Linked DNA regions of Homo sapiens. The protein of the gene in region 1 interacts with the protein of each later gene in a pairwise test. Each region holds a gene or a part of one and is shown in the gene's direction. Other genes may lie near its edges.

The links.
Region 2: the proteins of PSMB1 (region 1) and CYTH4 interact in binary tests that used the Homo sapiens proteins (3 or more experiments, as listed by UniProt).
Region 3: the proteins of PSMB1 (region 1) and PYCR3 interact in binary tests that used the Homo sapiens proteins (3 or more experiments, as listed by UniProt).
Region 4: the proteins of PSMB1 (region 1) and OIP5 interact in binary tests that used the Homo sapiens proteins (3 or more experiments, as listed by UniProt).
Region 5: the proteins of PSMB1 (region 1) and KRTAP7-1 interact in binary tests that used the Homo sapiens proteins (3 or more experiments, as listed by UniProt).
Region 6: the proteins of PSMB1 (region 1) and JAKMIP1 interact in binary tests that used the Homo sapiens proteins (3 or more experiments, as listed by UniProt).
Region 7: the proteins of PSMB1 (region 1) and CTAG1A interact in binary tests that used the Homo sapiens proteins (3 or more experiments, as listed by UniProt).

Annotation. Positions count from the first base shown.
Region 1 is NC_000006.12:170,539,484-170,543,585, reverse strand, and holds part of PSMB1 (proteasome subunit beta type-1), read left to right. Parts: intron 1-4,102. UniProt on the Homo sapiens protein: Non-catalytic component of the 20S core proteasome complex involved in the proteolytic degradation of most intracellular proteins. This complex plays numerous essential roles within the cell by associating with different regulatory particles.
Region 2 is NC_000022.11:37,292,036-37,296,137, forward strand, and holds part of CYTH4 (cytohesin-4), read left to right. Parts: intron 1-566; exon of another isoform or gene 567-585; coding exon 586-668; intron 669-2,624; coding exon 2,625-2,689; intron 2,690-3,963; coding exon 3,964-4,030; intron 4,031-4,102. UniProt on the Homo sapiens protein: Promotes guanine-nucleotide exchange on ARF1 and ARF5. Promotes the activation of ARF factors through replacement of GDP with GTP.
Region 3 is NC_000008.11:143,606,775-143,611,575, reverse strand, and holds the start of PYCR3 (pyrroline-5-carboxylate reductase 3), read left to right. Parts: upstream 1-2,000; 5' UTR 2,001-2,027; coding exon 2,028-2,118; intron 2,119-2,699; exon of another isoform or gene 2,700-2,812; intron 2,813-3,449; coding exon 3,450-3,514; intron 3,515-4,443; coding exon 4,444-4,623; intron 4,624-4,801.
Region 4 is NC_000015.10:41,315,332-41,319,433, reverse strand, and holds part of OIP5 (protein Mis18-beta), read left to right. Parts: intron 1-4,102. UniProt on the Homo sapiens protein: Required for recruitment of CENPA to centromeres and normal chromosome segregation during mitosis.
Region 5 is NC_000021.9:30,828,028-30,831,188, reverse strand, and holds KRTAP7-1 (keratin-associated protein 7-1), read left to right. Parts: upstream 1-1,429; 5' UTR 1,430-1,490; coding exon 1,491-1,754; 3' UTR 1,755-2,150; downstream 2,151-3,161. UniProt on the Homo sapiens protein: In the hair cortex, hair keratin intermediate filaments are embedded in an interfilamentous matrix, consisting of hair keratin-associated proteins (KRTAP), which are essential for the formation of a rigid and resistant hair shaft through their extensive disulfide bond cross-linking with abundant cysteine residues of hair keratins.
Region 6 is NC_000004.12:6,193,949-6,198,050, reverse strand, and holds part of JAKMIP1 (janus kinase and microtubule-interacting protein 1), read left to right. Parts: intron 1-3,431; exon of another isoform or gene 3,432-3,560; intron 3,561-4,102. UniProt on the Homo sapiens protein: Associates with microtubules and may play a role in the microtubule-dependent transport of the GABA-B receptor. May play a role in JAK1 signaling and regulate microtubule cytoskeleton rearrangements.
Region 7 is NC_000023.11:154,583,550-154,587,729, forward strand, and holds CTAG1A (cancer/testis antigen 1), read left to right. Parts: upstream 1-1,583; 5' UTR 1,584-1,657; coding exon 1,658-1,926; intron 1,927-2,602; coding exon 2,603-2,737; intron 2,738-2,976; coding exon 2,977-3,115; 3' UTR 3,116-3,267; downstream 3,268-4,180.

The DNA of each region.
Region 1 (4,102 bases):
TCTGGAAAATGGTGGGGGGGAGGAGTTATTATTCCCTAGATGTGTGTATCCATCTAGAGTTGAAAAGAACCATAAATACCATCTGACACAATTCTCATTTCATTTCTGATAATGAAAGTGATGAAGAAACTGAAGCTAATGTATGACCTCCAAAGGCACATTGAAGCTCTAATAGTGAATGTTGAGCAGCCAGTTATTTTGCTATTTTCTCAGGAACTTGCATGAGTTAGTAGTAAATAATTAGGCATTTTTATCTTATAGAAAGAAATCGGACCTAGAAAGCTTGACCTAAATGTGATTCTGAGTATTGAAAATTTTTTTATTAACAAATACACTTCAAAAAAGTTCTTTAACGGTTCTAGAAGTCATTTGGGGTAATTAATAATAAGCATCTACTCCAGTGTTTTCAGAACTTTTTGAAACACCTCTCTGATTTTGTCAGAGTCAGACCAGGATTCCCTGAGAATATTAAGTCTTGTTACTTAATATTCCATCCCATTTTTGTTCCAGAGCTGCATTACGCCACATGGGCACCAATGTTTTCCATCCAAATGTTCCAATCCATTTGTTCTCATTTGCAATCCAAATGTTCTCATTTGGATTGGCTTTTGGTTGCATCTAAAAATCAAATACAAGTACAGTGTCCCAGGACAGATCTTTGTCACTTAGAGTAGTCCATTGACACAGATGGATAAGTAGTCCATCTGTGTCATTTAGAGTAGTCCATTGAGATAAGAAGTTACAGAAGTGTCTAGATGAGGATATCATTGGAGTAAGCCCATCTTCTGTGTTCCTTCTGGCTGAACCTGTGGCTGAAGTTGCCCTAAAAGTAGGGGCAGAGGAATTCCTGTAAGGGACTGCCCCGAACCTAGTTGGGGTTCCAGAACACTAAATCTCAGGGTAATCAGTCAAAAGCATTTAGTGCTGCAGCAGTCCTCTCAGCAGACAGCAGGAAAAGATGTGTCCAAGGTGAGGGAGTTGATTTGAGTGTTGAAGGAATTTGGTTCAGGGCCAGGGATAGTTTCTGTGTGTTTAGCAACAGGGGTAATTTCTCAGTGTTTCAAGCAATAGCCTAAACAACATTGTCAGCGCCTGGGAATGTTCAAGGCAGGCCTTGGCTTGGGTCAGAGCCTCCAGGGGAATACATGCGGCTGGCCACATCACAGAACATCTCAGTTGGACACAGAAAGAAAGCAAGGGGACTGGGGACCCTAAATCCTGTGAGGGAAAATTCTAAGAGGAAAGGGTCAAGCTTCATTTCAGCGCCCTGCCTCTCGGTTGTTGACTCCTATCGCTTTCTGTTCCATGAGCGTTTTCTTTGCGTGCGCTATCTCTGACTCTTAACATCCGCCCCCATACACAGCCTTGGGGAACATTCTGATCATTTTACCTGCCATGGTTTAGGCGTAGACAAATTAGGTTGACACAATTTCTTTTTAAGGCTTTCAACCTTACTTGAAAACCAAGAGAAAAAGTAAAGTGTAGAAATAGTAAAAATAGAAATGAATTACCTTTAACATGGGTAATTAGAGTCTAGCTACAAATTAATTTGCCTAACTTAGCAAGCTGGATGCTTCTGGTGTCTTTTTTGACTTACATTATGCCTGGCTTTAATGTCAGATTAATAGATTCAGATTTTAGCAACATTAAAAATAGCTGAGCTGCCATTGAATTTCAGCAGGCCAGACAGCATCCTTTGAGTTTTTCCGAGAGTTAGAGAGTCTAATCTGGGAAAGCTGATACCTACTAAGCAGCAGACCTAAGATTCAGGTTTGGCTTTTGTTTCACTTCAGAGCCCTGTTCTTTGATTTCCATGTAACAGTGTTGCTAGTTTTGGTGACAACCTCAGGTGTCTCTAGAACTGTCTTTCTAAGCTTGTCTGTCTGGTTGGCTTTTAAGTGTTCTTTAAACTAATTTTTATTTTATAGAGGAATTTGTGTGAATAATAAAGCAGTCCTCTATCTTTTTTTTCCATTGCCCTAAGACAGTTTTCAGCTCTTTTACCTGTATTTCCTGGTACTTACCTCCATTTTCCAAAACTCTGTATTTGTACTGCACTCTTTTGAGATATCTTTTGGTGTTTTGTTCTGGTAGATGATGGTTCTTAGCTCTTTTGTGTCCTCTTCCTCATTAGCATCCTCCTTTAACACATTACACTTTTGGTAACATAGACCTTTAATGTTTTTATTATGACCAGATAGATATTGATCTTTGTTGCGCCAAGTAGCATGCATTAATATTTTCTTTCTTGTGTAACTCGTTTTTATTTTTTTCTTAAGTTAACTATCTCTAATTGGCTCAGATTTCTTTAAACTTTTTGTCAGTTCCTTGTACATTCTCTGAGTACAATTCATCTGGTTGTCAGACCTCACATACTAGGTGGATCCCTTTTCCCCTTGCTCCAGGATGGACCACTGCCATCCTGAGATTCCCCCACATCCTGTGTTCTCCTCTTTCTTGATTTATTTCCTTATTTTAGAGGCTTACCTCCTAAAAGATTTCTGAAAAAAACAAAACGGGACCTTTTTGAGACTTTGCTTTTAGGATCTTTTCTTTACCCTGGTGTTCTGAAATTGTATAGTGATGTTCCTTGCCTAGAGTTTCTTATTTGTTTTATCCTCTTTCTCCACCTTCTTTCCTCTCCTCCTCCCCTACCCCTCTGCACCTTCTCCACAACCACCTGGATTATGACCCGGTACTTTATTTTTGACTCCCCATGTTATCCATGTCTGTCTTTTTTGTTCTACTTTATGAAGATTTCCTTAATTTTAGCTTTTCATCCTTTACTGATTGCTTTTATTTCTGGTGTCATTAATTTCCAAGAGCTTGTACTTATTTTTTGTCTTTTTAAAAAAAATCCTGTTTACTTTCTTTGCAGTTTTCTGTATTTCATCAGAATGTTTTTTTTTTCATGTTATGTGTTCATTTTTGGCCTCTGTCTTCTATGTTAGAGGCTTCCTTCAAATCTCTGATTTTTTTTTTTTTTTTTTTTTTTTTGCTGTCCATTCACATTGAAGAGTCTTGTACCAAAATTTGATTATGAAAGTCCTTGTTGACATGGCTTGTCAACTGACAGCCGTTAACTGGGTGCTTAAGTAAGCAGCATTTTCTTCAGATGAAGAATTTCTTTAATCTTTTTTCCTGAGGTGAGGTGGGACTACAGGAAGAGAAGCCCGGTTGGCAGCTTTTTAGGCCTCAGAGGAGGAAGGGGGCTGAAGGTCTGTGTTTTGTTTACATCAACTTTCCATTTCATGTGTTTTGCTCCTACCCTTTGCCACTCTAGAGCCTGGTCCCCTAAGTCCAGAGCCTCTGCTAATGTCTCAGGAGACTTCCTTTACTGTCTTCTGTGTTGGTGGATGCAGGGACCTGGAGAGCAGTGCTCCATATTGAAACCTTCAGGACAGCAAGGTCCACAGCTCTTTCCCTTGGTGTCAACCGCTGTCTGCACTAACCTCTCTGTCTTTAATCTCTTAGCTGCTCTCATGCCTTTTAAAAATTTTTCTCCCAAATTAAAAGTGGCTTTAGTTTTTCTGTAGTGAAAACAATCAGTACATGTTTATACATACACTCATGCAGTTTTATGTAAGTAGGACTTTGGTATCTGTTTTTCTGTAACTATACATTATGTATTATCAAGGAGATCTAAGCTATATGCATAATGATTTTTGTATTTAATTAACAAAAAATTTTTTTGTCTTCTGTTTTTGCTGCTGTAATACATAGCATCATTTACCTAACCAGTCCTCTAAAGGGCATTTTGGCTTCCTGTTTTCTTAATATAAACACTATGATGAACATCCTTGTACATACATTTTTGTGTACTTCCCCAATTATGCTTGTCTTGCTAGAATAAACTTCGAGTAGTTGAAGTATTGGGTCAGATAAATTTTTTTTTGTATTTTGTTGAGTATACTCTTTCTGAAGGATACGCCAGTACCCTGAGTACCCGATTTTATATAACCTTCCCAGTATTAGAATTAACACATTTTGAAACATCTTTTTGCCTATTGAACAGTTTATTATTTTCATTTATATATATTCTTGGGCATGTTTTCATATGTTTATTGACTTTATAAATTTCCTCTTTGGAGACTGATTCATA
Region 2 (4,102 bases), on another chromosome or scaffold:
AGTAAGGACATCAGGACCACCCTGCTACAGGCTCATTTCCCAGCCTCCCTTGCAGCTAGGTGTGGCCACGTGACTACATTCTGGCCAATGGGATGTGAGGAAAATGGTATACCACTTCTTGGTTGTTCAAATAAATAAGTGAATAAATAATGAGCCCATGAGCCAGTGGAGGAGGAGATTCAAGTTCCGGGGAAGGAATGCGTGCCTTCAGCGAGTGTTTAACTGAGTGCTTATGACATGTCAGACTCTTTCTAGGTGCTGGGGACACAGTAGTGAGCAAAAGAGTAGAACAACTGAACTCTCATGGAGCCGAGAGTCTAGCGGGAGGGACAGAAAAGATGCAAGGAAACAGGATCCTTTTGGGGGTGTCTATCCAGGGGGGTGGGAGAAACAGGAAGCAGGGCAGGAGAGGAGGGAGCAGGGGCTGCTTTAGACAGGGCAGTCAGGGGAGGCTTCCTGGAGGAGGTGGGCCTCTGTGAATAGGGCAAGTCCTGGGTTTCCGGAGGGAAGGGGGCCCTGCAGAAGTGAGGGCAAGTGGGTGTGGCTGGAGCCAAGTGATGGGGAAGGCCGGTTGTCTCTCTGTAGAGCCCGCGGAGCTGAGCAGCGGGGAGACGGAAGAGTTACAGAGGATCAAGTGGCACCGAAAGCAGCTCCTGGAGGACATCCAGGTGAGTGCACACTCGTGTCCACACACGTGTCCATGCCCACACTCCTGCACGCTTGTACGCACCCCACCAGCTCCTGACCCAGCCTGGTCAACAGACAGTGTGGCCAACTCTGGCTCATATCAGCCTCGGCCCCAGCCCCAGGAGCAGGGAGAACAACAAGACTGCAGACACCCCGAGACCCAGGGAGAACTGGGAGAGCCGGGGAGGGAGGCAGCGATCCAATTAGGCGCCCACCGTGTGCCGATCCTCATCCTGGCCTTTACTTGCTTTGTCACAGGGCAGGCTCTGACCCCTGTGGTGAAGCTTCAGCCAGGTCTCACCCCTGCAGAGTGTAGACCACCTGGTCAAGATAACTCCCAGTATGTGCCCTGCACTTACCACTTCACCAATCAGACTCAGACGTCAGCTCATCTGGGTCAGCAGCTTCTGAGACAGGCTGGGTTCTGTTCCTGGAACGTGCCTTGCTCAGCACTGCCCCTGGGCCTTTGCACTCGCAGTCCCCTCTGCCTGGGCTGCAGTGGCTGTGCCCACCCCCACTCCCATGCACATAAACTTAGGATTTCAGTGAGGAAATGAAGGCACAAAATTATTCACTCAGCTGCTGTTTCATTGAGCACCTACTATATGCCAGGATTTCTCTACCTTGCTCTGATGGTGTTCTGCATAGTCATTCCAATTACCCTATGACCACCCATGATCCCAGCCCCACCAGACTGTGCCCTCCATGAACACAGAGCCGAGGTCTGTCTTGCCCACCACTGCATCCCCAGCCCGCTGGGTGCAGCATTAATAGGTGCTCAGTTAATACTTGCAAATGAATCCCCATTGTATTTGTGGGGCAACCACTCAGTGGCTCTGCCAAGATGGCATGAACAGGAGCTGACACGGCTCAGACACAGGCTCCCAAGTCCCATGCTGGCCCTGAGTCTCAGGACAAGTCCCTGGAACCAGCCCCTCACCAGCACCCTGCAGATCCTGGGGAGAAAGGGGCTGGGTGCCTAATGGGGGTGCCGGCCAGAGGCTCATGCTGGTGTCCTTCAGGGGGTGCTGGTGGTTGGCAGGGGGAGGTGTTAGGGGGTCCCCTCTGCCACTGGGTGCCTCCTGCAGGGTCAAGATGAAATGGGCTTGGGGTCGAGTTGGGGGAAGCACAGGTTTGGAGTCAGACTGCGGGCGTGTCGTGTCATCTCTCTACGCCTCAGTGTCCTCTTCTGTAAAGTCCAGGGGAATTGCAAAGTCCCTGGAAAGAGGGCCTAGGCTGCCTGTGCGTGGTGTCCCCGTAGTACCTGGCAGGCACATAGCGGGCACTTAGTCAAGGGTGAGCAACATAGTAAATGGAGGAAAGCCAGAGAGAAGCTGAGGAAGCAGTAGGGAGCCATGGGAGGGGTTTGAGCAGGGGAAGGGCAGGCTCCATGCAGTGCTCCAGAAAGACACCAGCCGGGAGAGGCAGGCAGGGTGGAGGCGGGCAGGGTGGAGGTGGGCTGGGGGAGGTGGGCAGGGTGGAGGCGGGCGGGGGGTGCAGGCAGGGTGGAGGTGGGCAGGGTGGAGGCGGGCAGGGTGGAGGTGGGCTGGGGGAGGTGGGCAGTGGGGAGGCCGGCTTGTCGGGTAGGCTCGGCTAGAGTGCAGGAGACTTCATGGCTGCAGAGAGGAGAGATGGGAAGGTTGGAAAAAGGATGGGCAAGGGATGGGGGCTTGGGGAATCCCACTCCCCAAGACAAGTGGAGGCATGGGTGCAGACAGAGGTGATAGTTTAGCATGCGACTTAGAAATTATGAGACATCCAGGGAGGGGACCTGTCCATGGAGGGTCCCTCAGACTGGGGACTCAGGACAGAGGTCAGGGAGAGGGGCCAGGTTTGAGAGTCGTGCCCAGGGGTAGGAGTGGTCCTTGTGGTCTCAAACCCCCGGGGTTCTGGCCTCCACCCCTGACTCTCCCTGTCCTGCCCCTGCCACCCCACAGAAGCTGAAGGATGAGATTGCAGATGTGTTTGCCCAAATCGACTGCTTCGAGAGTGCGGAGGAGAGGTGAGGGGCTTGGGTGGGGACCCCCAGAAACTGCCATGGTTGCTTCCCAAGGATGTCATACACCTTGAATGAGCAGGGGCCACTCCCAGCCCCCTGGACCTGGTGAAATCAGGGATTGGCCAGGGAGAAGGAGGCAGCAACGAGACCGGAACAGGGTGGCCCCGGCCCCATCCCGGGTCTGGTCCCTGCTCCCAGGCTGACCCTCTCTTGAGAGACACTGCGTCCTCCCCTCCCCCAACCCAAAGTCTCTCCTGACCCACTGTGGTCCAGCCCTGACCGATCACTGGCCACATCCACCCTGGGATGGGCGGGGAGAAGGGAAGCTCAGCCCCAAGGGCAAGGACAAGGAAGCCCAGGGCCCCAGGAGGACAGGAGCCTGGCCCTACCCCACCCCACTCACCACTAACCCCGGGCCAGCCACGCCCACCGCCTCTGTGGAAAACTCCCACTATTTTGTGATCTGGGACAGATCCTGTCCCTCTCTGGGTCTCAGTTTCCCCATCTGTGCAACAAGAAGGTTGGTTGCTACACAGTCTCCTAAGGCCCCAGTGCACTGACTCTGACACACGATGTCCTGGCAATTTCCCATCCTGCGCCCGCCACTCCTTAGGTCTCCACCTGTCCAGCCTCCTCCCCTCCCCCACCACACACATGCACACACACACACGCATGCACACACACACAAGCATGCACACACACACAAGCATGCACACACACACAAGCATGCACACACACGAGTGGCCGTTTCTCCAGCTCCCCTGTTCCAGCCACAACAATGACAACATAACACACCTACGCCTCACTGTTTTAGGTGCTTTAACCTCTCAACAATGCTGGGAGGCAGGTGGTGGTATCACCTCCATTTTATAGATGAGGAACCTGAGGCCCAGAGAGAGGAAGTGACTCGCCCAAAGCAGCCCGGCTCAGATTCGCATCCAGGAGCCTGGCTCCAGCACCTGCGTGCTCAGCCCTCGCCCCCTCCCCCGGTTTCTTGCACAGGGCCCCTCCACCTTCTCCCACACGGCAGCTCCGGGTTCCTGCAAGCTGCTAAATGCCCGTGCTGGGCCCATCAGAGAAGTCAGCTGCAGAGCTCTGGGAGGAGCCAGGCCTTGCACTGCTCTCTCCCGCCCAGGTGGTTCCCATGCAGGACCCGGAGGCCACACTTGGAGGGCCCTAGAGGGGTATGGGCTCCTGCTGAGGCAAGGGTCCTTGGGGAGTGGAGAGGGTAATTCAGGGTCCTGGGGCAGCCCAAGCTGACGTCCTCATGTCCACAGCCGGATGGCCCAGAAGGAGAAGGAGCTGTGTATTGGGCGCAAGAAGTTCAACATGGACCCCGCCAAGGTAGGTGGCTGTGGAGGGCCCGGGCCACAGGGTGTGGGGGCTGCATGGGAGCACCTGCCTGGTGTCCTCTCG
Region 3 (4,801 bases), on another chromosome or scaffold:
GGCCCCCTCTTGGGTCAAGGCCTCCCTACCTTTTAGGCCTCAGCTGAGGTGGCCCAGCCTCCAAAACACCTTCCCTGATGGCACCTTCACAGCGCCTCTCGGAGCATCCACCCTGCCCTGCTGGGATTGTTTGTCTGGAAACCTCTGGGAGCCCCGCCTCAACCCCTAACCCTCCCGCTGACACCCCAGGACCTCGAGCTCCAGGAGACGGGTTGGCCTCGTTCACAGTGTATCCCCTGGCCCCAGCCCTTTGTGGATAAAGGCTCTGCCCATGTGGGGGTTCAGGAAAGGCCTCCTGGAGAGGGTGGCGCCTATGTGGCTGCTTGGATCCACCAGGTGAACAGTGGGAAGAAGCCCAGCCAAGAGCAGAGAGGTGCCCTGGACACAAGCCTTGGCTGGCTGGGTGTCCACGTCAGCTGAGGGCTCCCAGCTGATGCTCAGAAGCCCAGCCCGGCATGGGACGGAGAAGCTGAACGGGGCTGGGCCCCTGGGCCTCCTTTTACCCACTGTGGCCCTGGGCACTCAGCCAGCAATCCTCCTTCACCTCGCCTCAGTCCACTTGTTTATGATGAGCTTTGTCCTTATGTATGATGGCATGGCACTGGATGCCTCTGGCCCCTCTCACCTCCCCACAGCCTTGGTCCTGAGCCATCACTGGCCCAGGGGGCCTGGGAGAAAATCCAGGGAGTCTGTGGGAAGGGGCTGGGAGGATCCGAGGTGGCAGGAGATACAGCTGCTGACGCTGTGTGCTGGTGCAAAGTGTCCACCACCCACGTTTCTCGGCTGCAGTGGCCGAAGCAGCCTCCTGGTGGCTTTCTGTCCCTTTCCACCTCATTTGCTTCAGAGCCTTGACACACTGGCTGTCCTGCGTGTGTGCTGACTGTAGTCTGTCTACACTGCCACCAAGCAGGGCTGCAGGGTGGGGTCCAGCCTGTCCCATCTGCTGCCGTGGGGTGATCTTGCCCAGGCCCAGAGCAGGGCCCAGAGGCTGCAGCTGCACAGTGAATGTTGAATCAATGAGAGGATTTCATTACTGAAGAGCTTAGAAAATGTCAAAGGCTTGGGCCGGCACGGTGGCTCACGCCTGTAATCCCAGCACTTTGGGAGGCCGAGGCAGGTGGATCACGAGGTCAGGAGATTGAGACCATCCTGGCTAACAAGGTGAAACCCCATCTCTACTAAAAATACAAAAAAATAAGCCGGGCGTGGTGGCGGTCGCCTATAGTCCCAGCTACTTGGGAGGCTGAGGCAGGAGAATGGCGTGAACCCGGGAGACGGAGCTTGCAGCGAGCCCAGATGGCGCCACTGCACTCCAGCCTGGGCGACAGAGCGAGACTCCGTCTCAAAAAAAAGAAAAAAGAAAATGTCAAAGGCTTCAAAAGAAAATAACATATGTAACATGCAGCTTTAGATTGGATGATGAAAAAACCGCACTCAGATCTTCAAGCCTTGTTTTCCTTGTGTCATTAAAAGTGACGAGTACCCCCTCCCCGACTGTCCCCTCCGTCGGTCTCAGGCCCCTGGCCCTGGCCTGCTCTCCGTGACCTGGGTCTCCGCCCCTAGTGCTTCCCCGCAGCTCCACCGTCTGTGGTCGGCGGGGCCTCAGTGACCGCACGCTCTGGACCAGCCCCGCAACCCGCTTCGCTACCCCTCCCCTCCGGAAAACCAACATGTGCTCCTCGCACGCGCGACCGGGACCCCTCCCCGCTCCTCCGGCCTCTCCGAGCGCGAGTACCCCGCCGGCCCCGCCCCTTACGGCCCCGCCCCCAGTTTCTCTCAGCCAATGGGCAGTGAGGGGCGGCATAGCCCTTTCGGGCCAATAAGCAGCGAGAGGCGGGGTTCCCGCGCCTTGCGAACTTGTAGAGTGCGGACAAAAAGCCGGCCGGAGTGTGCCGTCCCAGTAACCAATCGGCGAGGGTGGGGACGGGGAGGCGAGTCCTATTGGAGGGCGGGGGTGGGGCCTAGATCTGTGGGCGGGGCGCGGCCTGTGGATGGGCGGTGAGCGCAGCGGCGTCCGAGGCAACAAGATGGCAGCTGCGGAGCCGTCTCCGCGGCGCGTGGGCTTCGTGGGCGCGGGCCGCATGGCGGGGGCCATCGCGCAGGGCCTCATCAGAGCAGGTGGGGCGGCGCGGGGCTAGGCCTGCGGTCTGGAGTGGGAGCAGCCCCGTGGGAGGTGTCCTGCCGCGAGAGTGGGGCCGGGGGCGCGGGCCCAGCCAACCGGGTCTCCGCTCCGCTGGGCGCAGCCGGGGCCACGCCTGTTTGCTCTTACTTTTTTGACGTGGCTGCGGGAAGATTTGAGTCACACGTGGCTAGGTGCCGCTTCCGTGGCCGGCTTCCTGGCCGCGTGGCCTTGGCCAGGCTCACCTCTTCCAGCCTCTGATTTTCTCTTTGCGCGCCAGCCCCTCTCATGGGGAGCAGCAGGGCTTCTCCCCCAGACACCTTGGCTCTAGGGACACCTGGGCCAGACTATCCATCCTGTGCCAGCAGCACCCCCACGTTGTGACAGCCAAAAATGCCTCCAGACACTGCCGAATGTCCCCTGGGTGGGGGGAGGAGACAGGCAAAATCATCCCCTGTTGAGAAACACTGCTTTATACCCGGAATATTTATGCTGACCATATACTCCTCCAGGCATTTAGAAGCCTCTCTGCAGATTGTGGATAGGGAGAGCTGGGTGACTTTTGACTCTCTGCCTTCAGCCATACTTCAGGGTCCAGAAGAGTCAAGATCAATCGGGAAATAGCTTACTATGAGTCTCAGGAGTCTTCCCTGTGAAACCTGGCAGTACCGCATGCCTCCCAGAGCTGTACAGGTTAAATGAGACATAAATGTCTAGTGTTGAGCTTAGTACTGGTGTGTTTGGCTGCCACTGTCATGATTAATTGCTGTGTTCAGGTTGTGGTGTACACTTGTGCCTTCCTGTTCGACCTTACCAAAATCTAACCCAATCTTTCCACCCCGTACCCGACAAAAGCAGATAATTTCTACCAAGTAGGCATTTAGCCTTTTCTTAGACATTCCAGCATAGACTCTCCCTCTCGAAGAACCTGGGCCCCGATTGGGCCTTCTGTGGCCAATCAACTGCCTTTGTACCCACCACATTCCCCCAAGGCCTGGTGTTCCTCCAGAGGTACTGCCTCTTCTGCTCCAGGCAGCCTTCCCTTCCCTGGAGGCAGAGGCCCCAGGGATCTGTGTCCTCACCAATGAGGTAAGCTCCTGGCCTCCATACCCAGCAGCAGTCAGGGGCGTTGACCGCCAAGTAGAATCAGTGGATCTGATTGCCTGGGCCCAGTGAATGGTGCATCCCGCTTTGGGTTCCTGGGGCCAGGAGGGGGCCCAGGATGGGCCAGGCGTGGCTGAGCCTGAGAGGCCAAGTGAGCTCCCTCTCCTCTCCGTGCCATCCTATCCCACCCCTTCACCAACCCCTCTTCCTTTTCCTTTCTTTCCAGGAAAAGTGGAAGCTCAGCACATACTGGCCAGTGCACCAACAGACAGGAACCTATGTCACTTTCAAGTGAGCATAGAGCCCAGGTTCTTCATACCCTCAGGAGCCCAGGATAGCTCTTGGCTCCTGTCCCACTAAGACACTTATCAGAGCCAGGGATGGGTGGTTTATTTAGCTGAAGTTTGCAGACTGGCTGGTCTGGGCTGGGAAAAGGGAGATTAGAGGCCAGGAGGAAAGTAAGGTTGTGGAGGGCCAAAGCAAAGTGTTTGTGTGTGTGTGTGTATGCATGTGTGAGTGCATGTCCGTGAGTGTGTGTATATGCACGTGTGTATATGTGAGGCTATGCGTGTGCATGTGTGTATGTATGTGCTCATGTGCGTTTGCACGTGCGCTTGTGTGTGCGTGTGCACGTGTGGTGAGTGCATGTATGTCAGTGCATGTGTGTGCGTGTGTGTATGAGTGCATGCTCATGAGTGCATGTGCACCTGTGTGGTCGTGAGTGCACGTATGTGCTTGTGCATGTGTGCCTGTGCAGATGTGTATATGAGTGCGTGTGTGCGTGTATGAGTGCGTGCGTGTACACATGAGTGCATGCTCGAGTGGGTGTGTGTGCATGTGTTTGTGCTCATGAGTGCATTCATGTGTACATGTGTATGTATGCTCGTGAGTGCATGTGTCTGCGTGTGTGTATATGAATGCATGCTCGTGAGTGCGTGCATGTGCATGGGTGTGTTTGCATGCTGGGTGGTGGTCACAGACATTCACTGGGGATGGAGGGCTCAGGGCTTGGGGAGGCGCTGACATCAGGATGGCCTGTGAGGAGTAGGGCTAGTCTGGGGGAGTCTTGGGCACTGGAGAAGTCGGGGTGGTCTAGACACTTGCAATGGGAGAGGCCCTGGGACCATGGGAACGTGTGGCATCCAGCAGGAAGGGCTGTGATGGAGAGGGTGCGCCGCTTACATGGCCCCTGAGGCTTGGTCCTGGTGTCCCTGGCGCAGGCTCTGGGTTGCCGGACCACGCACTCCAACCAGGAGGTGCTGCAGAGCTGCCTGCTCGTCATCTTTGCCACCAAGCCTCATGTGCTGCCAGCTGTCCTGGCAGAGGTGGCTCCTGTGGTCACCACTGAACACATCTTGGTGTCCGTGGCTGCTGGGGTGTCTCTGAGCACCCTGGAGGAGGTGAGTGTCCCTTGGGCTAAGGCCTTGGTCCCAGTATAGGCTCTGCTGGCCAGGCTTGGGCGGCAGGCAGCCCCCCAGAGAGCCTGAGAGGTGGCCGTGTGGCCCACCTGGATCAAGTGGCTGGATTTAGGGTTCCCTCCTGGTGCTGTACCTGGGAGGCAGACGCTGGAGCCCACCG
Region 4 (4,102 bases), on another chromosome or scaffold:
AAATACAAAAATTAGCCAGGTGTAGTGGTAGACGCCTGTAATCCCAGCTACTCAGGAGGCTGAGGCACGAGAATTGTTGGAACCTGGGAGGCAGAGGCTGCAGTGAGCTGAGATCACGCCACTGTGAGATCACGCCACTGCACTCCAGCCTGGGAGACATAGTGAGATTCTGTCCAAAGGAAAAAAAAAAAAAAGTAGCTGGGCATGCTAGTGCACACCTGTAATCCCAGCTACTTGGGAGGCTGCGGCAAGAGAATTGCTTCAACCTGAGAGGTGGAGGTTGCACAGTGAGCTGAGATTGCACCACTACACTCCAGCCTGGGTGACAGAACAAGACTCTGTCTCAAAAAAAAAAAAAAGAAAAAAGACAAAGTGTTTGTACCAAAAAGATGCTAAAGTCAGGCACTGTCTTTGACAAAAAGATAGCAGTGGGCCAGGTGTGATGGCTCGCGCCTGTAATGCCAATGCTTTGTGAGGCCAAGGTGGGAGGACTGCTTGAGGGCAGGAGTTCAAGACCTCCATGGGCAATATAGTGAGACTCCTGTTTTTTTTTTATACAAAATTTTAAAAAATTAGCTGGATGTGGCGGCGTGCCCCTATAGTCCCAGTTACTTGGGAGGCTGAGGTGGGAGGATCACCTGAGCCCAGGAGTTCAAGGTTACATTTTGCTGTGATCATACCACTGCATTCCACTTTGGGTGACAAAAAAAAAAAAAAGCAGTGGGACCAAAATATAATCTTATAACATTATGATTATCTTCCATGTCTTATCATACCATATCTTAAAAGTCATACCATGGGAAAATTCAGAGGGTATTCTTTCATTAAAGAAACTTGTTGCCAGATGTGGTGGTGTGTGCCTGTAATTCTAGCTACCCAGGAGGCTGAGGCAGGAGGATCACTTGAATCTTGGTGTTTGAGACCAGCCTAGGCAACATGGTGAAGCCTCCCATCTCAAACTGCTCCCTTATGGGCCGGGTGCAGTGGCTCACGCCTGTAATCCCAGCACTTTGGGAGGCTGAGGTCGGGGGTTCACCTGAGGTCAGGAGTTCGAGACCAGCTTGGCCAACATGGTGGAACCCCATCTCCATTTAAAATACGAAAATAAGCCAAGTGTGGTGGCACACGCCTGTGGTCGCAGCTACTCGGGAGGTGAGGCAGAAGAATTGCTTGAACCCAGGAGGCGGAGGTTGCAGTGAGCCAAGATCAAGCCACTGCACTTCAGCCTGGGTGACAGAGCTAGACTCTGTCTCAGAAAAAATAAAAATAAATAAAAGATAAAAAGAACATTCTAGAAGGCAAGCTTTTGCAAAATAATGTTGCAGTAGATACCTTTTGGGTTTGTGCCCAGCCTCTCTCTCCCTCTAATAGGTGGGGCCTTGTATATTTGTATCATGTGTGATTTGTATCATGTGTGATTCCCACTCCCAGGTACTGGATCAAGAATGAATACCTGGCCAGGCATGGTGGGTCATGCCTGTAATCTCAGCACTTTGGAAGGCTGAGTTGGAGGATTGTTTGAGCTTAGGAGTTTGAGACCAGCCTAGGCAACATAGCAAGACTCTGTCTCTACAAAAAATTTAAAATATTAACTGTGTATGGTGGTGTATGCCTGTAGTCCTAGCTACTCTGGAGGCTAAGGTGGGAGGATAGCTACAGCCCAGGAGTTCAAGGTTACAGTGAGCTATGATTGTGTCACTGTATTCTAGCATGGGGAGCAGAGCAAGACCCTGTCTCTTAAAAACCAAAAACGGTGCTGGGCGTGGTAGCTCACGCCTGTAACCCCAGTACTTTGGGAGGCCGAGGTGGGCAGATCATGAGGTCAGGAGATCGAGATCATCCTGGCCAACATGGGAAACCCCGTCTCTACTAAAAATACAAAAAAAATTAGCTGGGCATGGTGGCGCATGCCTGTAATCCTAGCTACTTGGGAGGCTGAGGCAGGAGAATCACTTGAACCGGGGAGTCAGAGGTTGCAGTGAACCAAGATCGCGCCACTGCACTCCAGCCTGGCAACAGAGCGAGACTCTGTCTCAAAAAAAAAAAAAAAAAGAAAAATGGATACCTGACCCAAACTAAGCCAACCAGTTTTCTACCTTAGGAATTTGAAACAAGGGCCCAGAAATACCAGTTACGTGTAGATAGTACTAGTGTTGAAGTTTGGAAGTGAAAGCTCTATGTATGGGATAGCTATTTCCCATGTGATGCATGTAGCTGCAGGGAAGTCTTCTCTGCAGTAAAACATGAAGCAGACACAGAGAAAAGTAAAAATAATGATCATGTAGCCTCATAGTGTCAGAAAAACTACCCTACTGGTTATCCTTTCTCATGAATTACATTGGCTATTTCATTATTTTCCTAATAAATTGCACTTTTAACTTAAGCTTTTTTACTTATTACAAGAAACTGAAACATCCTTAGAAGTCTTTCCTTGACCATTAAAAAACAAAAACAAGCATTGACAACCTAGTTTATGTAGGCATTATGCTTATATCACTGAGTTCTTAATATAGTTTAAGAAAACTAGGGCTCAAAGAGGTGGAAGAGCTGAGATTTGAGCATGTCTTAACTCAAAAGCTTATTTTCCTTTCATAAAACTAAAAGGTTTCCTTTTTCTCATGTCTTTTTTTTTTTTTTTTTTTTTGAGATGGAGTCTTGCTGTGGCGCCCAGGCTGGAGTGCAGTGACGTGATCTTGGTTCACTGTAAGCTTCACCCCCTGGGTTCACACCATTCTCCTGCCTCAGCCTCCCAAGTAGCTGGAACTACAGGCGCCCACCACCACGCTTGGCTAATTTTTTGTATTTTTAGTAGAGACGGGGTTTCACTGTGTTAGCCAGGATGGTCTCGATCTCCTTGACCTCGTGATCCGCCCGCCTTGGCCTCCTAAGGTGCTGGGATTACAGGCATGAGCCACCGCGCCCGGCCGCTTTTTCTCATTTCTTATGCTTAGATAGATGTTTTTAGCTGAGTTATGGTTGACTAAACAATAAAACTTATCAGCCAGTCCTTTACCATGGGTTGCTCACTGTGCATTAGGTATACCATTTGTTCTTCATTGCAAATTTCCAACACAAAATATATACCTGAGATCCTGAGATGGATTGATCATTCTCTTTTTTTAAAGACGGAGTCTCACTCTGTCACCCAGGCTGGAAGTGCAATGGCATGATCTCAGCTCACTGCAACCTGCACCTCCTGGGTTCAAGTGATTCTCCTGCCTGGGCTTCCCAAAATGTTAAGATTACAGGCATTAATCACCATGCCCAGCCTCAATTTTTAGATTCTTTTTTTTTTTCTTTGAGACGGAGTCTTGCTCTTTCGCCCAGGCTGGAGCTGGAGTGCAGTGGCACCATCTCGGCTCACTGCAAGCTCCGCCTCCCAGGTTCACGCCATTGTCCTGCCTCAGCCTCCCGAGTAGCTGGGACTACAGGCGCCCGCCACCATGTCTGGCTAATTTTTTTGTATTTTTAGTAGAGACGGGGTTTTACCGTGTTAGCCAGCATGGTCTTGATCTCCTGCCTTGGCCACCTAAAGTGCTGGGATTACAGGTGTGAGCCACTGCGCCACCAATTTCTAGATTCTTAAGCAATTTCTATTTAGAATTAACTTTAAAGTGGGAAAAAAAACTGTAAATGTGTGCTGTTAGTAATCCCACATCTTTTTTAGAAATCAGTACAAAAGTAAATGTTCTAGAGAAGCAATAATTGCATTTTTGTTAGGGCAGTAAGCTTTTAGTAACATATTTTTAACATAAATTTGAAAAGCATTATGGGATTTTGGTTAATTTCTTAATCTTTAAAATGAGTTGGATAAAAGGTCAGGACATTCTTTTTGATTAAGTAGAAACTTTGGCCTTTTCCTCTTGGATTCGGGATGGCTGCTGCAATTACAGTCATTACATCTATTGATGATAGCATCCTAAACATGAAGGAAAAGGATATGGAGAGTATGGGAACACAAGAAAATTCCCCCTTTTCATCAGCATAAATTTTTTTTTTTTTTTTGAGACAGAGTCTTGCTCTGTCACCCAAGTTGGAACACAGTGGTGTGATCTCAGCTCATTGCAACCTCCGCCTCCCAGGTTCAAGTGATTCTCCTGCC
Region 5 (3,161 bases), on another chromosome or scaffold:
CTTACCATTTTAATTCATTCTTTTTGTTAAACTGAATTTGAAATTATAACTTATTTTTCTTTAACTTTCTCTATATACTCTTATGACATTTAATTAATTTGTAGAATAAAAGAAATCATATCCACTTATAGAACATTCTTTAGGCAGCTCTCTGTCAGAGAAACTGAGAGAGATAGAATCTTAAAGAGAGAGGGATGTCTGAGAGGAATGATTAGTTTTGCATATTGGACTCTGTGATTGTCTGTTAAGATGGAAATAAAAAAAGGAATTGGTATTCAGGAAGTTTTTTCTTCTACTTTCAGAGAATTCTGACTTTGATTCACATATAAAAAGATGATGTCGTAAACCTTTGAATTGGAATAGACTTAGCTTTGCTGAGCTCAGATCCTTCCTGGTTTACGTTCTTCATGAGAATTGGTTATGTAAGGCAAAATAAGAGCAGAAGGAAGTGTTGCATCCTTAAATATAACTGGTATTTCATAATGGATCATGGCATTCAGGCTTGTTTTATAGGAGTCAGTAAGAAGCAAGTGTGGTATAACATGACTCTGAAATTGAGCATCATCCCACTCAGCGCCAGTGTGGCAACTCCAGAAAGACAGTTTGGCAATGTTCAAGATGATTTACAAGCAAACATGGTATGTTCTCCATGAAAAAATAAAATATGTATTAACAAACAGAATGCTCATAAATGAAATTGATGAAAATTACTTGCAGGTTATTCACAGCCAACTTATTATTTGGCACCATTGCAGCCTCTGTAAAAACACCTGGTTGGATAGATTTGTGTAGCAGTGCTTTTTAAAATAAAAAATACATTTTGAGTTAAAATTTGTATAACACAAACCAAGGCATTTTAAAGGTAACAATTCAGTGATATTTAGTACATTCCAAATGTTTTGCAACATTGTCTAGTTCCAAATGATTTTCTTCACTCCAAAAGGAAACTCTGTACCCATTAACTAGTTGGTATACAATTGTTTTAAAAGGGCACATGGGTGAATTTCAAGAGGTTATAGAATTTCAGTTTGATGTTTCAAAATAATGTTCAAAAGACCTCAATATATGGCTTTGTCTTGGCTTGAAGTGTTTGCATTCTTGCCAAAGCTTTTTTAGTTTAGCTATGTCAGTTGGGAAGAGTTTATAATCAGAGGATTTAAAGAGTCTCACATGATGCAATCAAGAACAGTAGTTAAACTATGGGACTCTGATGAAAAGAATTCGATTGCGTGTCAAGCATGGTCACTGGCTTTAAAATAGTACAGAGAAAAGCCAACAAAAATGTGGGCAATGAGTCTGTGCATTCCTTATAAGCATTTTATTAGAAAAGAATGAGATTACCTATGCAAATTAGTGGGAAGATGTTTAGACAGATGTGTTGTGCCCACCAGCTTGAGGTATAAAAAGCCCTGTACGGGAAGAGACCTTCATTAACACTTGGGTAACTTACCCTTCACAATCCATCTAAATCCTTCTCAATTGCTGCCACCATGACTCGTTACTTCTGCTGTGGAAGCTACTTCCCAGGATACCCTATCTATGGGACCAACTTCCATGGGACCTTCAGAGCCACCCCCTTGAACTGTGTTGTGCCTCTGGGCTCTCCCCTGAACTATGGCTGTGGATGCAATGGCTACAGCTCCCTGGGCTACAGCTTTGGTGGTAGCAACATCAACAACCTGGGCGGCTGCTATGGTGGTAGCTTCTATAGGCCATGGGGCTCTGGCTCTGGCTTTGGCTACAGCACCTACTGATGGACCAATGGCTCCAGTGACTACAGGACTCTCAATTAATTCTCTGCACAGAACAACCTGAAGAGCAATGACTGTCTTCCTACCTTCCCATGTGCTTGGGTGATACATCTTCCATCTTCTTGCTGACTTCTTGCTGTGGTCTTTGTCTTTGATGCTGTTGGACAAGTCACCCAGGACTCAGGTGCTGAACTGATACTCATCTACAGACAAAGGAAGCAAGATGCATTTTTTTGGTCATACTTGAATTTTAACAGTGAAAAAGTAGTTTGCCTCCCATGGTTGCTCTGCTCATGTATTATTAGCTTCTACATCAACATTAATGTATTACAAATTGGGTGTGGGTAGTAAGGGGATTTTCTGTCAGTCTCTTAATAAATCTATTTCCTTCAGCATAAATATTTTTGTCCTGGTTATTTATTTCACTTCTCTTTTATGCTCTTGAATTCATCAATCAGTTTAAACCCGTAATGGTTGACTTTAACCAAATTTTATTCTGATTTCAGACTATATAGCCAGGATAGGGTGATGCCTAACCATTTTTTATTTTTATATTGATATTTCAATTTAAAAAACTCCCTGGAAATGTCCCGTATTTAACCCAGATATACTGCAATTGTTGGCGTTTCTCAAAGCTGATTATAAAACAGGAATATTTCTTAGCTGTTGAATGCTAAAACATGTTTTCTTTTCTCTTTTCCTTAGTGACAAGATTCCATTTTGGTTCATTTCTCCTTTCCTACTGTTTATAGAACTCAGCTCTGGGGAGATTTGAACCCCTCATGTTGTTGGAAGAATTGGAACTAAATAGACTTAGTTATGAAACTCTATCTTTAAGAGTTCCTAAGATTTGATCAATAAAGGGAAGCCAACTACTAAAATCACATATTATTTTTTATCCTTTTTTGATAGATGGGTTTATTTTCTCCACTTTCTTCACCTCTGATTATACATATAACTAGTACTAAAAATGAAGTGTTTATTCTTTGAAATAATAGTTGCCATCAAAAGCACTTGAAATGGTATGTTGTCTACACTTAGAAAATGCTCCCTGTCGATCTAGAACTAGAAATAACATTTGACCCAGCCATCCCATTACTGGGTATATACCCAAAGGTCTATAAATCATGCTGCTATAAAGACACATGCACACGTATGTTTATTGCGGCACTATTCACAATAGCAAAGACTTGGAACCAACCCAAATGTCCAACAATGATAGACTGGATTAAGAAAATGTGGCACATATACACCATGGAATACTATGCAGCCATAAAAAATGATGAGTTCATGTCCTTTGTAGGGACATGGATGAAATTAGAAATCATCATTCTCAGTAAACTATCGCAAGAACAAAAAACCAAACACCGCATATTCTCACTCATAGGTGGGAATTGAACAACGAGATCA
Region 6 (4,102 bases), on another chromosome or scaffold:
GTTTTCCTGGGGAGGTGACCACACAGACACTGCCCGTGCTGTCAGAGAGTCATGTGCAGGGAGAGATGGGGACAGGCGGCCCGGCCAGGAAGGCTGCACGAGGAAGTGGCAGGACCGTGGCCCCACTCTCTTGGTGTGTAAGGGTGGATTGGGCTGTGGGACAAGTGGCAGAGGGAACAATTTCTAATGCTTAAGCCAGCAGCAATTGCCACTGCAGGCTATGGCTATCTGTTTAACTCCTCGAGGGTGGGACCTTGTGTCTCTTCAGGCTCTGAGCCAGACTGCCAGGGTTCCCATTCAGGCCCTGCCTCACTTAGCTGTGACTGGGCAAGTGCCTCCCTGCTGGGCTTTCTAACTAAATGGGGGCTTCCCTTGGGGAGTCTGAGGATGACTGCAGTGTGTCCCAGTTCTGCTGGGTCACTCCTCTCCCCATAGTGGCGACGGGATCAACCTGCAGGGCTTCTGAAGTTGGACTTGCCTGTAGTTTATCCCTTGTCATTGTGTGATCTTGGGTAAGAAGATTAACCTCTCTGAGCCTCCATTTCCTGTATAAAAGGGGGCAGTGGCATCTCTTTGGCTAGGTTGGTGTGGGGATCAGAGGTGTGGTCTCTGAGCAAAGGTAGCCGATTTATGAGGGGTGATGATGGTGAAGAAGCTATGAGAATATTTATTCATTTAGCCTTGTCACAGAGCAAACTCCCACGCCCACATTTGGGGTCCTTCTTTAGCTAACGATGAAACTAATGATCAGAGCAGTGGCCACCATTGTGGTGGGCTGAGAGGTATGAGGGACCAGGCTAGGTCAGTGGAACTGTGTTGAGGACCAGCTCCCACCCTACTGACAGTGTGACGTTGGGCAAGTCGCTTAGCCCCTGTACTCACTTCTTTTGTCTGGATAAGGGGAATGAGGGCCACGTAAGGAAATATCAGCACTTAACCTCCCGCTTCTGCCTCGGGTTATCTCATCTTTGCTGCACGGGCACCACACAGGGTGAGGTCTACGTGAACACCGCAGAGGGAGCCAAGTCTCAGGACACTGGGGGACTCAGAAGTGGGGCTCCCTGACTCCGGGCCTCAGATGTTGCCCCACGGAGCACACTGACCCTTGTAACGGAAAATGACCTTCCAACAGGGATGGCATGAGAATAAATCAGAAAGCCTTCTTGGTGCTTTTGTTTTTTTTTTTTTTTTGACAGAGTTTCTTTCTTGTTGCCCAGGCTGGAGTGCAATGGCACAATTTTGGCTCACTGCAACATCCGCCTCCTGGGTTCAAGTGATTCTCCTGCCTCAGCCTCCCAAGTAGCTGGGATTACAGGCACCTGCCACCATGCCTGGCTAATTTTTTTGTATTTTTAGTAGAGACAGGGTTTCACCATGTTAACCAGGCTGGTCTCAAACTCCTGACCTCACCTCAGGTGATTTGCCCGCCTCGGCCTCCCAACGTGCTGGGAGTACAGGCGTGAGCCACCGCACCTGGCCCCTTCTTGGTGCTTTTAATGGAAGCACGTCACCGTCATGTCCGTAGTGGCCATTGGTGTTGCTGTAAGTGGAGGCTCAGACAGTGACCCCAGGGCTGGCCACTGGTGGGACCACAGCATCCTGACTCTAGCCCTGGATGCCTTCAGAAAGTATTTTCTTTGCTCATTCTTTTCTGAGGCCAGGTGGACTGTGCAGGGGGCTGTGGATCAGCAGGGAGGGGCAGGGACAGGGAAGGAGCTGTGGGGGCCTCATGCTGTGAAGGGCTGGGTTAGGAAGCCCTGTAGGAGGTGGGACGCAGGAGCGCTTGCAGGGAGTGGCCACAGTCACTATTAGATGCAAAAATAATCACGGTTTTTGCCATTACTTTTGCACCAACCTCATACTGGAAAGTAGAGGAGAAAGGGCCCGTGGTGAAAGCACCTAGAGGCAGTTCAGAGTGTGGGAGGGGCAGCTCCCCAGTGGGGCCGGGGGCATCCCTCCTGCCTTTGATGTTAGTATTGGTTTTCAGAACTGCAACCCGAAGTGTTATGCCTTTCATAAGTCTGTAGAGGTGAATGGACAGAAAGGCTGTTTTTCTTCATTATAACAGTTAACATGTGTGAATGGCACTTAGCAAGTGCCAGGATCTATGCCAGGGGCTTTTGTAAATAAAGTTTTATTAGAACACAGCCACGCCCATTTGTGTATGTATGGTCTGTGGCTGCATTTGTGCCAGACTGGCAGAACTGAGCAGCTGGGGGAGACATCTGGGAAGCCAAAGACATTTACTCCCTGGCCTTTTCCAGGAGGAGTTTGCCTCCCGCTGGTCTGTGCTGTCCCTGGTCTGACTGAACCCATTCAGTCCCAGAGGGAGGCGCACACCTGCATTTCTATTTTATAGATGCGCATAGAGGGGCTCTGAAGCTCGCCAGGGATTATAAAGCGAGTATGTTCCAGAGCAGGGATTTGAAGCCAAGAAGCCCATGTTCTTTTGTGGGGGAGGGGACAGGAGCAGGGAGATTTATATTTTTATTAGCTTCTAATTTAATTTTACCATGTTAAGAGAATGTGTGTGATATCTATTTTCAAAAATTTGTTGACAATTCCTTGATGGCCTAGCACCTGATCATTTTTTAAAATATTTTTTCATCATGGTTAATGTACTAAATATATTAAAATATTTAATCATGGTTAATATATTAACCATTTCTAAGTGTGCAATTCAGTGGCATGAAGTACATCCACACTGTTGAGCAACGAGCGCTACCATCCACCTCTAGAACTCTCTATCATCCTCACCTGCAGCCCACATTCTTCACTGATGCCATGTGCTGTCTTGTGGGAGTTTTGTGGAATAAAACAAATGTTAGTGGCATCACAATTTAGCAGAGAAGGCTTTGACATCAGACTTATGTTTGAGCACCGGCTCTGCCATTTACCGGCTATTCTTGTCCCATTGTCTGCAGCCCCCTGAACCCTCTGCAACTCAGGTTCCTCATTTGGGAAATGGGGATCACCCCAGTCTGGTCCCTGCACATCCCTCGGTTGTGAGGATGAGACTAAAGAACGGAGGTGAAAGGCCTAGTCTAGGATCACGCCGTGGACAGCAGCTGCAGTGGCGGGTCCCTTTGTTGGGCACCACCGCCCACTTGTGTTAGGTCAGCCTGTTCCCCTCTGTGTGGTCTGAGGTGGCCCCTTTATCCTTTCCAGGGCTTGCAAGCATCCTCAGGACCCACTGCACATCCTAAAACTCCCAACTGGCCTGGGAGGACCTGGGTACAGGCTGCCTGCTCTCCTGTCTCCCACCGTGGCTTAGACTGGCTGAAGGGCCACTTTAAGGAATGAAAGGGGTTCTGTGTGCACCAGCCAGGGACTGCCAGTGGGTGCTCATTGTGGCAGAAATACCCTTATGCCTGCCAGGTCAGAGGGAGGCGCTGGCTCGGTGTGCTGGCCTCTGAGCTTCTCCCTTGGCTGCATTTTGAGTCAGGAGCCTGGACTGACCCGGGTCCCTCCACAGCACTGGAGGGGGTGGGACACATCACTACAGGGTTTCCTTCCATGAGGACTCTGAGGAGTTGACAGTGGAGGCAAGGAGTGAGCTGGTAAGTAGCTTTCCACTATCTTTTACCCTTGGAGCTTCTGTCTCCTGTCTTCTCTCACCCTATCCTGTTGCATCTGGTGGCTGGTCACCCCTCTCTGCTTGTTCTGACATGGGACTGTATTGAATGAGATCACAACCTGTGTCTTCCATTGAAGCAATTCTTTTTCCCCTTCTTTTTCTTAAAAAAATTGAGGTGAAATTCATTTACTGTAAACCGTTTTCAATGGTACAATTCGGTGGCATTTACTGCATTCACGATGTTGTGCAACTGTCACCTCAATCTAGCTGCAAAACATTTTCCTCCCTCCGGAACAAACCCTGTGCCCATGGGCAGTCATTCCTCACTTCCCCTCTCCCAGCCCCGGCATCCATCCATCTGCCCTCTGTCTCCTTGGATTTGCCTGTTCTGGATATTTCACAGATGTAGAACCAGATCGTATGTGGCTGGCTTCTTCCACTTAGCCTGATATTTTCAGGGTTCACCCATGTTATAGCAAGTGTCATCAAGTGTCATTGCTTCCTTCTTCTTCATGGCGGAGTAGT
Region 7 (4,180 bases), on another chromosome or scaffold:
TATTCCAGGTGTTAACAAGTTGTGTTCTCTGGTTTTTAAAATTCATCATTTAATGAAATATATGTAATGAAATACAGCAGTGAAAATAATAAACTGGAGGTACACGCAAGAGCTTGGGTGAATTTTTCTTTTCTGTAAGTAAAAACATTTTTAACTGATGTATGATAACTCTGCATATTTATGGGATACATGTGATATTCTGATACATGCACACGCACACACGATGTAATGATCAAGTCGGGGTATTTAGGATCTCCACCACCTCAAGCATTTATCATTTCTTTTTTTGGGGAACATTTCCTATCTTTTAGCTATTTTGAAATATACAATAAATAATTACCTATAGTCCCTCTACGGTGCTATCAAACACTAGAACTTAATCCTTCTATGCAACTATATGTTTGTCCCCATTAACCTCCCCACCCTCCCCACCTTTCCCAGCGTCTGGTAACCATCATTCTGCTCTACCTCCAAAAGATCAACGTTTTTAGTTTCCACATGAGTGCCAATATGCTTTTCCCAGGTGCAGAGGCTGCTGATTCCTGGATTTGGAAGGTGGGGGAGAGTGGTTTGGATTTCAGTACCTCCCCCTTCCTCAGGGCTAGGCCCTGTCTGGTCACCTCCTGTTGCTACAGGTGTGCCTGGCACAGACATTCAGCTCCCGGGGCCGTGCCGCCCTCACCCCTGCATGCCTCTAGAGGTACCTGTCCCGTGGATTTGACCCCCTTCCAGACACACAAATAGATCACCACTGAGCAGACACAGGGTCACCTCCCAGCTCCCTACCAGGCAAGAGCGACCAGGGCAGGGACTGATACTGCCGAACCCAGGAGCCAGGCCCGACCCAGCCTCAGGTCCAGCAGGTCCCGCCTGTCCACCTGGGCCAGGCCTAGAGCCCGGGAGCCCCTGGCTGGTGGGAGGCCACCCGCAACCCACCCCACACGCAGCTCCAGCTCCCCCACCAGGCGGGGCGACTAGGACAGGGACAGAACCCGTTGAACCCAGGAGTGAGATCCGGCCCCGGGTCCCGCTGGGCCCTCCCGTCCACCTTGGCTGGACCTGGCGCCTGGGAGACCTTGGCTGGCGCGAGGCCACGCCCACCAGACATGCAGTTCCAGCTACCCCACCAGCTGGGCGACCAGGACAGGGACGGAGGCTGCTGAGCCCAGTTAGAGGCCTGCCCCCCGGGGTCTGTCCTGGGCGCTCCCCCAAGGACGGACAGGGCAGGCAGGGTCCGGGACGATGGCCGCACAGTCCCGGCCCCGTGTTCCCAGGCCCGTCTTGCTCCTCGATGTGAGGGAGACCCGGGGGATGGGACAGGCTGGGCCCCGCAGTGCCTGACTCCCTGCAGGGCTCCCGGGACAGGGGTCCGGCGGACAGCCGGCTGCTCAGGGGTGAGGGGTCCAAGCTGGCATTGCGGCCACCTTCCGGCCCGGGCTCTCTTGGGGAGGGGCGGGGTTGGTGAGAACCGGTCACGTGCTCCGGGGCTCACTCGGGGTCTCCCAGGGCCGGAAGTAGGGCCCCTGTGCGCAGGCGCCCTGAGGATCCCGGGCTGCCCATCTCACGCCAGGGGGCGGAACTTCCTGCAGCCTCTCTGCCTCCGCATCCTCGTGGGCCCTGACCTTCTCTCTGAGAGCCGGGCAGAGGCTCCGGAGCCATGCAGGCCGAAGGCCGGGGCACAGGGGGTTCGACGGGCGATGCTGATGGCCCAGGAGGCCCTGGCATTCCTGATGGCCCAGGGGGCAATGCTGGCGGCCCAGGAGAGGCGGGTGCCACGGGCGGCAGAGGTCCCCGGGGCGCAGGGGCAGCAAGGGCCTCGGGGCCGGGAGGAGGCGCCCCGCGGGGTCCGCATGGCGGCGCGGCTTCAGGGCTGAATGGATGCTGCAGATGCGGGGCCAGGGGGCCGGAGAGCCGCCTGCTTGAGTTGTATTCTGTTCTGTTCTGTTCTGTTCTGTTCTGACAGTTCTGGTGGCGAGGTGGGGGCCGGGAGATGGGGAGGGCAGGGCCAGGTGGGGGAGGAGGCGGGGGAGATGCGAGTAAGTGGTTGGGTGGGGGTGGGGGTGGGGGTTGGGAGGTGGGGATATGAGAGGCCAGCTGCGAGGAGGGGAGGAGGTAAGGGCTGGGAGGTAGAGGGGGTGGGGGTGGGGGAGAGGGGCTGGGTGATTGGGTGAGGGGCACCGGGTCATGCGGGGAGGGGAGCAGGGGCCAGGAGATAGGGGGACCCAGGTGTAGGAGGGGATCAGGAGGTGGGGGGAAGGGGGCAAGATGGGAGCGGGTGGCGGGAGGTGGTTGGGATGGAGGGTCGAGTGATGAGGAGGGGGCCGGGTGATGCCACAGGGGGCAGGGTGGGGAGGGGTCTTGTAAGGGCATGGAGGAGTCAGCTTGGGGTGCAGCAAAGGAAAGTGGGGAACCAAGACAGCTGGGTGGGGTGTGCTACTGGGCCAGTGCCTGGGGAGACAGCCTGGGGGGGATGGGCTGGGCAATCCGGGGTAGGGGGGAGGGGTGGGGGAGTGGGGGAGGGGGAAGCTGGCCTGGGGTAAGCAGCAGGCCGGAGCCACAGGCCAAGTCCTAGGAGAGGATGCCTTAACTGGGCCCCCACCAGCTACCTCGCCATGCCTTTCGCGACACCCATGGAAGCAGAGCTGGCCCGCAGGAGCCTGGCCCAGGATGCCCCACCGCTTCCCGTGCCAGGGGTGCTTCTGAAGGAGTTCACTGTGTCCGGCAACATACTGACTATGTCAGTTCAGGACCAGGACAGGGATGGGGCCTGGGTGGGTGGCGGTCACAGCGTGGCAGGGTGGGGGCTGGGATCCGCCTACACCCCACGGTCAGGCTGCTAGAAACCTGGGAACACCCCAGCACAGGGTCTCAGAACAGAGACCTGGTACACCAGGCCCGCCGCCACCCGAGGGAGCCCAGGGAGATGGGTGCAGAGGTGTCGCCTTTAACGTGATGTTCTCTGCCCCTCACATTTAGCCGACTGACTGCTGCAGACCACCGCCAACTGCAGCTCTCCATCAGCTCCTGTCTCCAGCAGCTTTCCCTGTTGATGTGGATCACGCAGTGCTTTCTGCCCGTGTTTTTGGCTCAGCCTCCCTCAGGGCAGAGGCGCTAAGCCCAGCCTGGCGCCCCTTCCTAGGTCATGCCTCCTCCCCTAGGGAATGGTCCCAGCACGAGTGGCCAGTTCATTGTGGGGGCCTGATTGTTTGTCGCTGGAGGAGGACGGCTTACATGTTTGTTTCTGTAGAAAATAAAACTGAGCTACGATTCCGTGTCTGAGTCTCTTTTCGGCGAGCGAAGGCACCTTCGGACTTGCATGCCCTTGTCCTCGGGTTGCAGGGGAGGCTCTGGGATTCACAGATTGAAGTAGCACAAGGTAACGGGAGGCAATTTGGGAAATGGGGGAAAATGAAAAGCCACTGGGTCCCGCCATTCAGCATTAACTACTGTGGACATTTTAGAATATTTTCCTCAATATACTTGCATTTATATGTTAAATATATGACAGTAGCATATATAATGTTTTTCCAGGTCAGCATTAAATTTTTTCCCAAATTGTTTTCATTGAACATATGAGCTTTTTTACTTGGGAAAAATTCTTTGAAAACGTACTTGAATAGATGCATAGAACCAGCATTATCATATCACTGTTAAGCATGTGATATGGGTTGGGCATGGTGGCCCACACCTGTATTTCCAGCACTGTGGGAGGCTTGAAGCGGGAGGATGGCTTGAGACCTGCAGTTGGAGGCCACCCTGGGCAATGTAGCGAGATTCTGTCTGTAGAAAAATCATTAAAAGGCCGGGTGCGGTGGCTCATGCCTGTAATCCCAGCACTTTGGGAGGCCGAGGCGGGCGGATCACCTGAGGTCAGGAGTTGGAGACCAGCCTGGCCAACATAGTGAAACTCCATCTCTACTAAAAATACACACACAAAAAAACAACAACAAAAAAACATTAGCCAGGCGTGGTGGTGTGTGCCTGTGATCCCAGCTACTTGGGAGGCTGAGGCAGGAGAATCACGTGAACCTGGAAGGTGGAGGTTGCAGTGAGCCGAGATGGTGCCACTGCACCCCAGCCTGGGCAACAGAACAAGACTCTGTCTCAAAAAAAAAAAAAAAAAAGAAAGAAAAGAAAAGAAAAAATTAGCAGGGTGTGGTGGTGTGTGCCTGTGATCCCA